2 linked regions of the Homo sapiens genome follow. The protein of the gene in region 1 purifies or fractionates together with the protein of each later gene. This does not show direct contact. Each region holds a gene or a part of one and is shown on either strand. Other genes may lie near its edges.

Evidence for each region. Proteins that work in one complex are often made in the same cells at the same time.
Region 2: the proteins of CKMT1A (region 1) and EPHX1 fractionate together in Homo sapiens (co-fractionation; one large-scale study listed by BioGRID). This does not show direct contact.

The regions. Positions count from the first base shown.
Region 1 is NC_000015.10:43,695,865-43,700,932, reverse strand, and holds the end of CKMT1A (creatine kinase U-type, mitochondrial isoform 1 precursor), read right to left. Parts: coding exon 5,024-5,068; exon of another isoform or gene 5,023-5,023; intron 4,895-5,022; coding exon 4,809-4,894; exon of another isoform or gene 4,805-4,808; intron 4,694-4,804; coding exon 4,570-4,693; intron 2,920-4,569; coding exon 2,785-2,919; intron 2,293-2,784; coding exon 2,167-2,292; intron 1,961-2,166; coding exon 1,844-1,960; 3' UTR 1,711-1,843; downstream 1-1,710. UniProt on the Homo sapiens protein: Reversibly catalyzes the transfer of phosphate between ATP and various phosphogens (e.g. creatine phosphate).
Region 2 is NC_000001.11:225,830,291-225,834,188, forward strand, and holds part of EPHX1 (epoxide hydrolase 1), read left to right. Parts: intron 1-1,488; coding exon 1,489-1,669; intron 1,670-3,898. UniProt on the Homo sapiens protein: Biotransformation enzyme that catalyzes the hydrolysis of arene and aliphatic epoxides to less reactive and more water soluble dihydrodiols by the trans addition of water.

The DNA of each region.
Region 1 (5,068 bases):
TAATAGTAACAGAATATAACCCAGTAACACCTATCACTTCCCTGTCCATTAATTCTCCATAACTTTCCTCCTTCCCCTCTTCTCCCACCCCCCACCCCAGCTCCGCATTGTGGTCTCCAGTTTCCTACGGCAGAGTGGTCGGCATGTGAGCCACCTGGACTTCGTTCATCTGACAGCGCTGGGTTATACTCTCTGTGGACTGCGGCCAGAGGAGCTCCAGCACATCAGCAGTTGGGAGTTTAGGTCATTTGTGAAGGGGCTGAGGGTGGTCGTGTTCAGGTAAAGGTGGACTTGCTGGGGAAAGGAGGATCATGAAGTTATAGTCCCATGGAGGAAGGGAACTCATTTGAAGCCATCTCTTCCTTTGTCTCATGACCACAGTCCCTTTCACTGAAGCCGAATTCTTCTTCCTTCCTTCCCACTGTTCTACAGCCAAGCAGCTCTCTTCCTGGGCACCCTGCATCTGCAGTGCTCTGAGGAACAACTGGAGTTTCTGGCCCACCTCTTTGTACTGCCTGGTGGGTTTGGCCCAATCAGTAACTGGGGGCCTGAGATCTTCACTGAAATTGGCACCATAGCAGGTGGGGAGCTGGGCCACTGCTGGTGCAAGTTGGTTTGGTTTCTATACCATGGGTGGACTGGATGGAAGACTGCCCTGCAATTCTTCAGGTGTGGGCCTGAGAGGGTGTTTAAATAAGGGGCTAGAGACATATTGGGGAAGGTCTATGATAGGGCACTTTGGGAGTAGTTAGAGAAGGTCTATAGGTTTGAAGAGAGGGAAGGTCAGTCTAAGACAATGTTTGGATGCCACTTGCTTCAACAGCTGGGATCCCAGACCTGGCTCTTTCAGCACTGCTGCGGGGACAGATCCAGGGCGTTACTCCTCTTGCCATTTCTGTCATCCCTCCTCCTAAATTTGCTGTAAGTATTAATGGACTGGGGTGACCACAGGAGAGCCAGGGCCCAATGGGGACTACATGCATGCACTGATTCCTACCCCTGCCCTCAGGTGGTGTTTAGTCCCATCCAACTATCTAGTCTCGCCAGTGCTCAGGCTGTGGCTGTCACTCCTGAGCAAATGGCCTTTCTGAGTCCTGAGCAGCGACGAGCAGTTGCATGGGCCCAACATGAGGGAAAGGAGAGCCCAGAACAGCAAGGTGAGTTCCCAGCTGCACAGCTTGATCCTCCATCTCCTGACCCAGAATCAAACCCCTAATTTGGTGCTGTCTGGCTCTTAGAGTGCACCCAGGGAGATCCCTGGAGTGAAGGAGTCTACAGGCAGAGCGCTAATTTCCAAGTATCAATGCTCCTGGAGAGCTGAGTTGTGATATTACTCCCATTCCCTGTCTATTATAGGTCGAAGTACAGCCTGGGGCCTCCAGGACTGGTCACGACCTTCCTGGTCCCTGGTATTGACTATCAGCTTCCTTGGCCACCTGCTATGAGCCTGTCTCTACAGTAGAAGGAGATTGTGGGGAGAGAAATCTTAAGTCATAATGAATAAAGTGCAAACAGAAGTGCATCCTGATTATTTTCAGAAGCTGATGAGGAATATGGGTAAAATGTTAATGCTTTCCACCCACCTGAGAATCAGTGTTCCTGGGTTGCCATATCTGGAGTCTCTTTCCATCATAAATAATCCCACTGCCTCTTTTCATTTCCTGAAGGCTGCTCCCTCCTCACCCCACCATTAGAAGTAACACAGACAGCTGCAGCATAGCAAGGAGTCTTTACTAGGATGGAGGCAGGGGATGCGAGGGCAGGTCCAGAGCAAGTAGAATGGGCCATCATTAGAATGAGCAGAACTCCTTGGAATCTTGAGTCATCAGCTGGCGATGGGGAGTTAATGCTTGGTGTGGATGACAGGTGTGGGGATGCGGATATCCTGGCCTCTCTCCAGACGCCGTTCACAATCAATCAAATAGTTTACTCCATCGATGACCAGTTGCACCAGCTCCACCTGAAGGACACTAATCTTTGATCTCTGCTTCCTACAGTCTGAGTTTTTCTTTATCACTGACTGACTTGCCTGCTCATTTCCAATTGCCTCCCCACTCAACCTGAATTTCATTTCAGATTATGTTACATCCCGGAGGCTCACTCACTGCCATATTTCAGCCCCCACAGACCTATACCTCTCCTCATCCTAATCCCTTAGGATCTCACCTCTGATTTGCCTAGTCGGTCCAAATTAGAAATATCAAAGACACCGCCTGTGGCAGCAGTGTCCACTCCTCCAGTACCACGCTTTTGGAGTCTTAGGTTCTCCAGGATCTTTGGGAAGCGGCTATCCTAGAGAGGAGATAGGGATTGGGAGCAGGGTCAATAGAGGCAGAGACTAGTCCTACCTGAAAGAGCCCTGAACCTGCTCAGAGCTCTGTCTCCTGAACTTTTTTTTTTCCTTTTTTCTTTTTTTTTTTTTTTAGACAGGGTCTCTCTCTGTCACCCAGGCTGGAGTGATCACAGCTCACTGAAGCCTCGACTTCCCAGGCTTAAGTGATCCTCTCACCTCAGCCTCCACTACACCCAGCTAACTTTTGTATTTGTAGTAGAGATGGGGTTTCACCAGGTTGCCCAGGCTGGTCTTGAACTCCTGGGCTCAAATGATCTGCCTGCCTTGGCCTCCCAAGTGTTGGGATTAGAGGCATGAGCCACTGTGCCTGGCCTGTCCTCTGACCCTTTAGCCACAACATGTTTGGCTCCTCTCCAAAGGGTCCACTCCCTCCCCATCCACAACCCACCCTTCCTTACTCACACCCCTCTGTAACCCCACAACTCCTTTACTTTGCTTAGCAGGGGCAGTTTGATGTGCACTCCTGCCCGAAGTCCAGTGCCCAGGTTAGATGGACAGGTCAAGATGTATCCCAAACGCTCATTCCACATGAACTCCCAGCCACGTTCTTGGATAAGTCTCTCCACCTGAGTCCACAAAGTTTTTATTAATGAAAAATCAGGGATATTTCATTAACCCTGGACCCTCCCTTAGCTAGACCCACAAGAACACTAGAAATTTGTCTAGAATAGAAACTTGGCTGTGAATGAATGACATTGGTCTTTTTTTAAATGAAAAAGGTTTGTTATTGTTTTCATGCATGCATGATGCAAAATTATGATGTGCATAATAATGAGATTGTGAAAAAATATCTTATGTGGAAGAAGAAAACTCGAAGGCGTGGTGTATTAAGGATGATCTAGGGAAATGAACAGAGGTGGTAAACTGAACTGAGAGAGGACTGATTATTCAATGAGGTCTGCATGCATCGATTATCTTTGCTTTGCTAATGAGCCTAGAGCTTGGAAGGGTCCTTTCAGACAGAAGATGAAGGTGTAAGCTTTGCCAGGAAGAGGTGAGATAACGTTCTATTAGCTGTGAACGGAGCACCTGTGTGAATGCAGAGAAAGATGAAAACAGAGCAGGAAAGCCAGATTCATAGGAATAGGGGACAGGGGGAAGGCATTTTGCTTCCATTAACCATGTAGTCATGAAGATGACTATTAGAGTTCAAGAGACAAGGGATCTAGCAGAGTGATGATCACAAAGACCACTATCCAACATGAGTAAAGGGATCCTGTTTGTAGTTCAGAAGGAACCATGCCACCAGGGATATCTTATGTGCTGAACATGGGGGGAAACTCTTCCATCCAGAATAATATTGCAGCTAACACTTTAACACTTATTAAGCACTTACTGTGGACCAAGTACTTTACCTGTATTTCACTTAATCCCCACAACAACCTAAAATGTAGAAAATCTCATTATCCCAATTTTACAGATGAGGAAACTGAGGCATATAATTTAAAGGTACTTCCCTACCCACTCATAGTCAGAATATGTTATCTATTACTTGCCAAAAATAGTAGAAACTTCTCAGAATCTAAAAGAGGAGCTCTTTTTCTTTGCAAACCTAAAATAGAACTGTATGTTTGAGAACATACAGTAAGAATTGAATTGAGTTTATGGGGATTTCTAATGTAGACTTGAATACGGAGACCCAATCCATGTAGGATTGATGATTCAGTTCAACCTCTCATCTAGAGCCACATATTCTAGAACTCGAACCATTCTATCCTCCACCTTCCCCAGTCTCCCTCTGAACTCTCAACTTAAAGCCTAGACCCGATACTTTAACAAGAATGATAGAATCCAGAGTCAAGGCCTACCTTGTCTCAGAACTGGGTGGTTATATTAGAGTCATGAACACAGCAACCTCTCCCCGCCAACATCAATCTAAGCTCGAATGTTTTCCTTATCTGCACACCTCACCATCCCACTGCACACATCCCAGGCACTGACGTGCCATCTCAGTTATTCCTTCTTTGCATTACCTGCCTTCTTCACTTTCTAAGGTTCCTGACACTCTTTTCCTAATCTTAGTGTGACCACATGTCCTGGTTTTCCCAGTATGGTCCCAGCTGGTTTATACCTTTAGTCCTAGAGTGAGTCCTAGGTAGTCCTTTTTACCATCAGACATGTCTTGGGTTGGTTGATAAATTACATAATCTATTTATGCTACTCTTTGGTTTTCCTTATGTCCTCCCACCTAGCTCCCCTACACAATCTTCTCTAACCTCTTTGAGGCCTCGGCAGAATCTTTCAAACACTCTCTTCATGTTACCACCCTTCTCCATGGAGATCACCCGTGTATGATCCTCCTCATTCACCCAGATCAGGAAGCTCTTCTCATTGTTGTGCCTGAGGGCCGGAGAGGGACAGTGATCAAGAGGCAAGGCAAGAATTGGGAGAGATAGAGGGAAAAAAAGCATTTATGAGGGCATGAAGACAAAAGAGGTAATGAGCAGCTTCATACCAAATTCCACGAGCATCTGGCCAGTCTCGAGCCATTCCTGCTGCAGTCAGCAACGGGGACACAGGCTTATCAAACAGAAAGTGGTCCTGGGAAGAGTAACGGGACTTGGGTTAAGAATCTTCATGGTGGCCCCTGGGCCTTTCAGAGCCCATGTCTCATCTGGCCCAGCCTTCCCCATCTGCTCCCACCAACCAGCACCCTCTTAAGGCCCTCACATCAATAAGCTGCTGCTGTTCAGCCTCTGTCATCTCACTGAGCCT
Region 2 (3,898 bases), on another chromosome or scaffold:
CTAAGGGAGTCTGAGATTTCCAAAATCTGTTTGGGGGTAACTGAAACACTTGGGAAGAAGCCTGGGAATGGTGATGCTTGAGAGGCTCTCTAAGCTGACATGAACTTCCTCCCTCTGGGGCTGGCCTTTTAGCCTAATACATGCCAATGAGACTTGCACCCTCTCTCCTGGTCTGTAAATTTTTTAGTTTTTGGAGACAGGGTCTTGCTCTGTCACCAGGCTGGGGTGCAGTGGTGCGATCTTGGCTCACTGCAACCTCCGCCTCCTGGGTTCAAGCGATTCTCCTGCCTCAGCCTCCCAAGTAGCTGGCATTACAGGCACCTGTCACCATGCCTGGCTAATTTTTGTATTTTTAGTAGAGATGGGGTTTCGCCATGTTGGCCAGGCTGGTCTCGAACTCCTGACTTCAAGTGATCCACCTGCCTTGGCCTCCCAAAGCACTGGGATTACAGGCGTGAACCACCGTGCTGGGCCTGGCCTGTAATTTTTATCCCAACTCAGTTATAATGTATCATTCAATGTTGTATATCAGGGGTCAGGAAACCAGGCCCATAGACCAAATGTAGCCTGCTACCTGTTTTAGCACAGCGCCCATGCCAAGAATAGTGTTTACCTCTTTAAATAGTTAGGGGGAAAAAAATCAAAAGAAGAATAATAGTTTGTGACGTGAAAATTATATAGCAGTCAGATTTCAGTGTCCATAAATTTTTATTGGAACACAGCCACCCCCATTCATCTGTGCATTGGCTATGGCTGTCCATAAATAAAGTTTTATTGGAACACAGCCACCCCCATTCATCTGTGCATTGGCTGTGGCTGCTTTCACACTATGAAGACAGTGGAGTCACTGCAGCCTGCAAAGCCTAGAATATTTACTATCTGGCCCTTTACAGAAAAAGTTTGCCGACTCCCGCTGTAGAGACGCCTGGGTAAATTAAAGATGAGTATCGTGTATACACTTAAAGAGTAAAAGATGAGCTGGGCGCAGTGGCTTACACCTGTAATCCCACCACTTTGGGAGGCCAAGGCAGACAGATCACTTGAAGCCAGGAGTTCAAGACCAGCCTGGCCAACATGGCAAAACCCCGTCTCTACTAAAAATGCAAAAATTAGCCGGACATGGTGGCTCACACCTGTAATCCCAGCTACTCTGGGAGCTGAGGCATGACTGGCTTGAACCTGGGAGGTGGGGGTTGCAGTGGGCCGAGATCACGCCACTGCCCTCCAGCCTGGGCAACAGAGTGAGACCCTATCTCAAAAAAAAAAAAAGAAAAAAGAAAAAAGAAATGCGAAGTCTACAGTGAAGAAGGAAGAAGTGAAGAACACATCCGCTTTGGGAGTAGCCAGTGATGTGGGAAACTGCCTTGCCACTCCCAGAGGGCAGTATCTTGTGGCTGCAGGGTTTGCTGTGTTTTCTGGAAACAGACTTTGCTCTTGTGCTCTGTCCTTCCCATCCCTCTCAACTTGGGGTCCTGAATTTTGCTCCAGGACTTACACCAGAGGATCGATAAGTTCCGTTTCACCCCACCTTTGGAGGACAGCTGCTTCCACTATGGCTTCAACTCCAACTACCTGAAGAAAGTCATCTCCTACTGGCGGAATGAATTTGACTGGAAGAAGCAGGTGGAGATTCTCAACAGATACCCTCACTTCAAGACTAAGATTGAAGGTATGTTTGCAAAACGCCAGCCAGAGAGGGATGTATGTCATGAGAACAGCCTTCTTCCACAATGTGACTTACAGTCAGATAAAGTTGGAGAGATTCAGAACCCAATTATAGGTGACTGAGATGTACTTATACGTTGTAACCTTACTAAATGCAAAAATATTGCAGTCACAACAAATCTGTCCATCTTTAGAGCTAGGCAGGAACACATACATGCAATTTAAAAACCAAAGAAATGCACCATCCAGTCCAATGATGTGGCAATCTTTGAGAGGAAGGATGGAGATGAGATTTAGACCCAGGCCAAGTGGGGTGGCTCAGAACTGTAATCCCAGCACTTTGGGAGGCTGAGGTGGGTAGATCACGAGGTCAAGAGTTCAAGCAGCCTGGCCAAGATGGTGAAATCCCATCTCTACTAGAAATACAAAAAATAGCCAGGTGTGTTGGCAGGCAGCTGTAATCCCAGCTACTCTGGAGGCTGAAGCAGAGAATTGCTTGAAGCCAGGAGGCGGAGGTTGCAGTGAGCCAAGATCGCGCCACTGCACTCCAGCCTGGGCTCCATCTCAAAGAAAGAAAAGACTCTGCTCTCAGTTCTTTTGGATCTATACTCAGAAGTGGACTTGTTGGATCATACGGTAATTCTGCGTTTAATTTTCTGAGGAACCGCCATACTGCGTTCCGCAGCAGCTGCACCATTTTACTTTCCCACCCAACAATGCCTCAGAATCCCGATTCTCCAAATCCTTGCCAATATTTTTTTCCTTTCTTTTTTTCGGTAATGGTCATCCTAATGGGTATGAAATGGTATCACATTGTGGTTTTGAGTTGCATTTTCCTAATGATTACTGATGTTGAGCATTTTTTATGCGGTACTTATTGGATTCTTTGTAATTTCTCCGAAGAAATGTCTGTTCATGTCTTTTGTCCATTTTTTGGGTGTTTTATTAGGGTTTAGGAGTTCTCTATATATTCTGAATAAAATCTCTTATATTTGCAAATGTTTTCTCCCACTCTGTGGGTTGCCATACAATTAATCTTTTTCAGAGACAAGGTCTTGCTGTGTTGCTCAGGCTGGAGTGCAGCGGCTATTCACAGGCGTGATCATGGCTCACCACAGCCTCGAACTCCTGGGCTCAAGCAATCCTCTCGCCTCAGACCTCCTGAATAGCTGGTACTATAGGCGAGCACCACTGTGCCCAGCTTGTTAATTTTTTATATTGAAGAAATTGTACATGTTAGGAATCTTATTTTTAATGTTTTAAGATAATTTGGCCTTTTCAAGGAACAGTGAAGATTTTAATTTGTTAAAATTCTAGGAATTACTTAAAGTGTATGAAAGACATGTTGGTCAGTCAGATAAACTAAAGTTCCTAAAAAAAGGAAATTGAAATTATAGTGTTAACTGGGTGTGGTGGCATGCACCTGTAGTCCCAGCTACTCAGGAGGCTGAGGCAGGAGGATTGCTTGAGCCCAGGAATTCAAGGCTGCAGTGAGCTACAAGGACACCACTGCACTGGGTGACAGATCAAGACCCCATCTCTTAAAAAAAGAGAGAGAGGCTGGGCACGGTGGCGCACGCCTGTAATCCCAGCACTTTGGGAGGCTGAGGCAGGTGGATCACGAGGTCAGGAGGTTGAGACCATCGTAGCTAACACGGTGAAATCCTGTCTCTAATAAAAATACAAAAAATTAGCCAGGTGTGGTGGCGGGTGCCTGTAGTCCCAGCTACTCGGGAGGATGAGGCAGGAGAATGGCGTGAACCCAGGAGATGGAGCTTGTGGTGAGCTGAGATCACACCACTGCACTCCAGCCTGGGCGACAGAATGAGACTCTGTCTTTAAAAAAAAAAAAAAAAAACAGGCTGGGCGCCGTGGCTCACGCCTGTAATCCCAGCACTTTGGGAGGTCAAGGCGGGCAGATCACAAGGTCAGGAGATCGAGACCATCCTGGTCTAACTTGGTGAAACCCCGTCTCTACTAAAAATACAAAAAATTAGCCGGGCGTGGTGGCAGGCGCCTGTGGTCCCAGCTACTTGGGAGGCTGAGGCAGAAGAATAGCGTGAACCCGGAAGGCGGAGCTTGCAGTGAGCCCAGATTGCGCCACTGCACTCCAGCCTGGGTGACAGGGCAAGACTCTGTCTCAAAAAAAAAAAAAAGAAAAAAAAAAAAAGCCGGGTGCGGTGGCTCACACCTGTAATCCTAGCACTGTGGGAGGCCGAGGCGGGTGGATCCC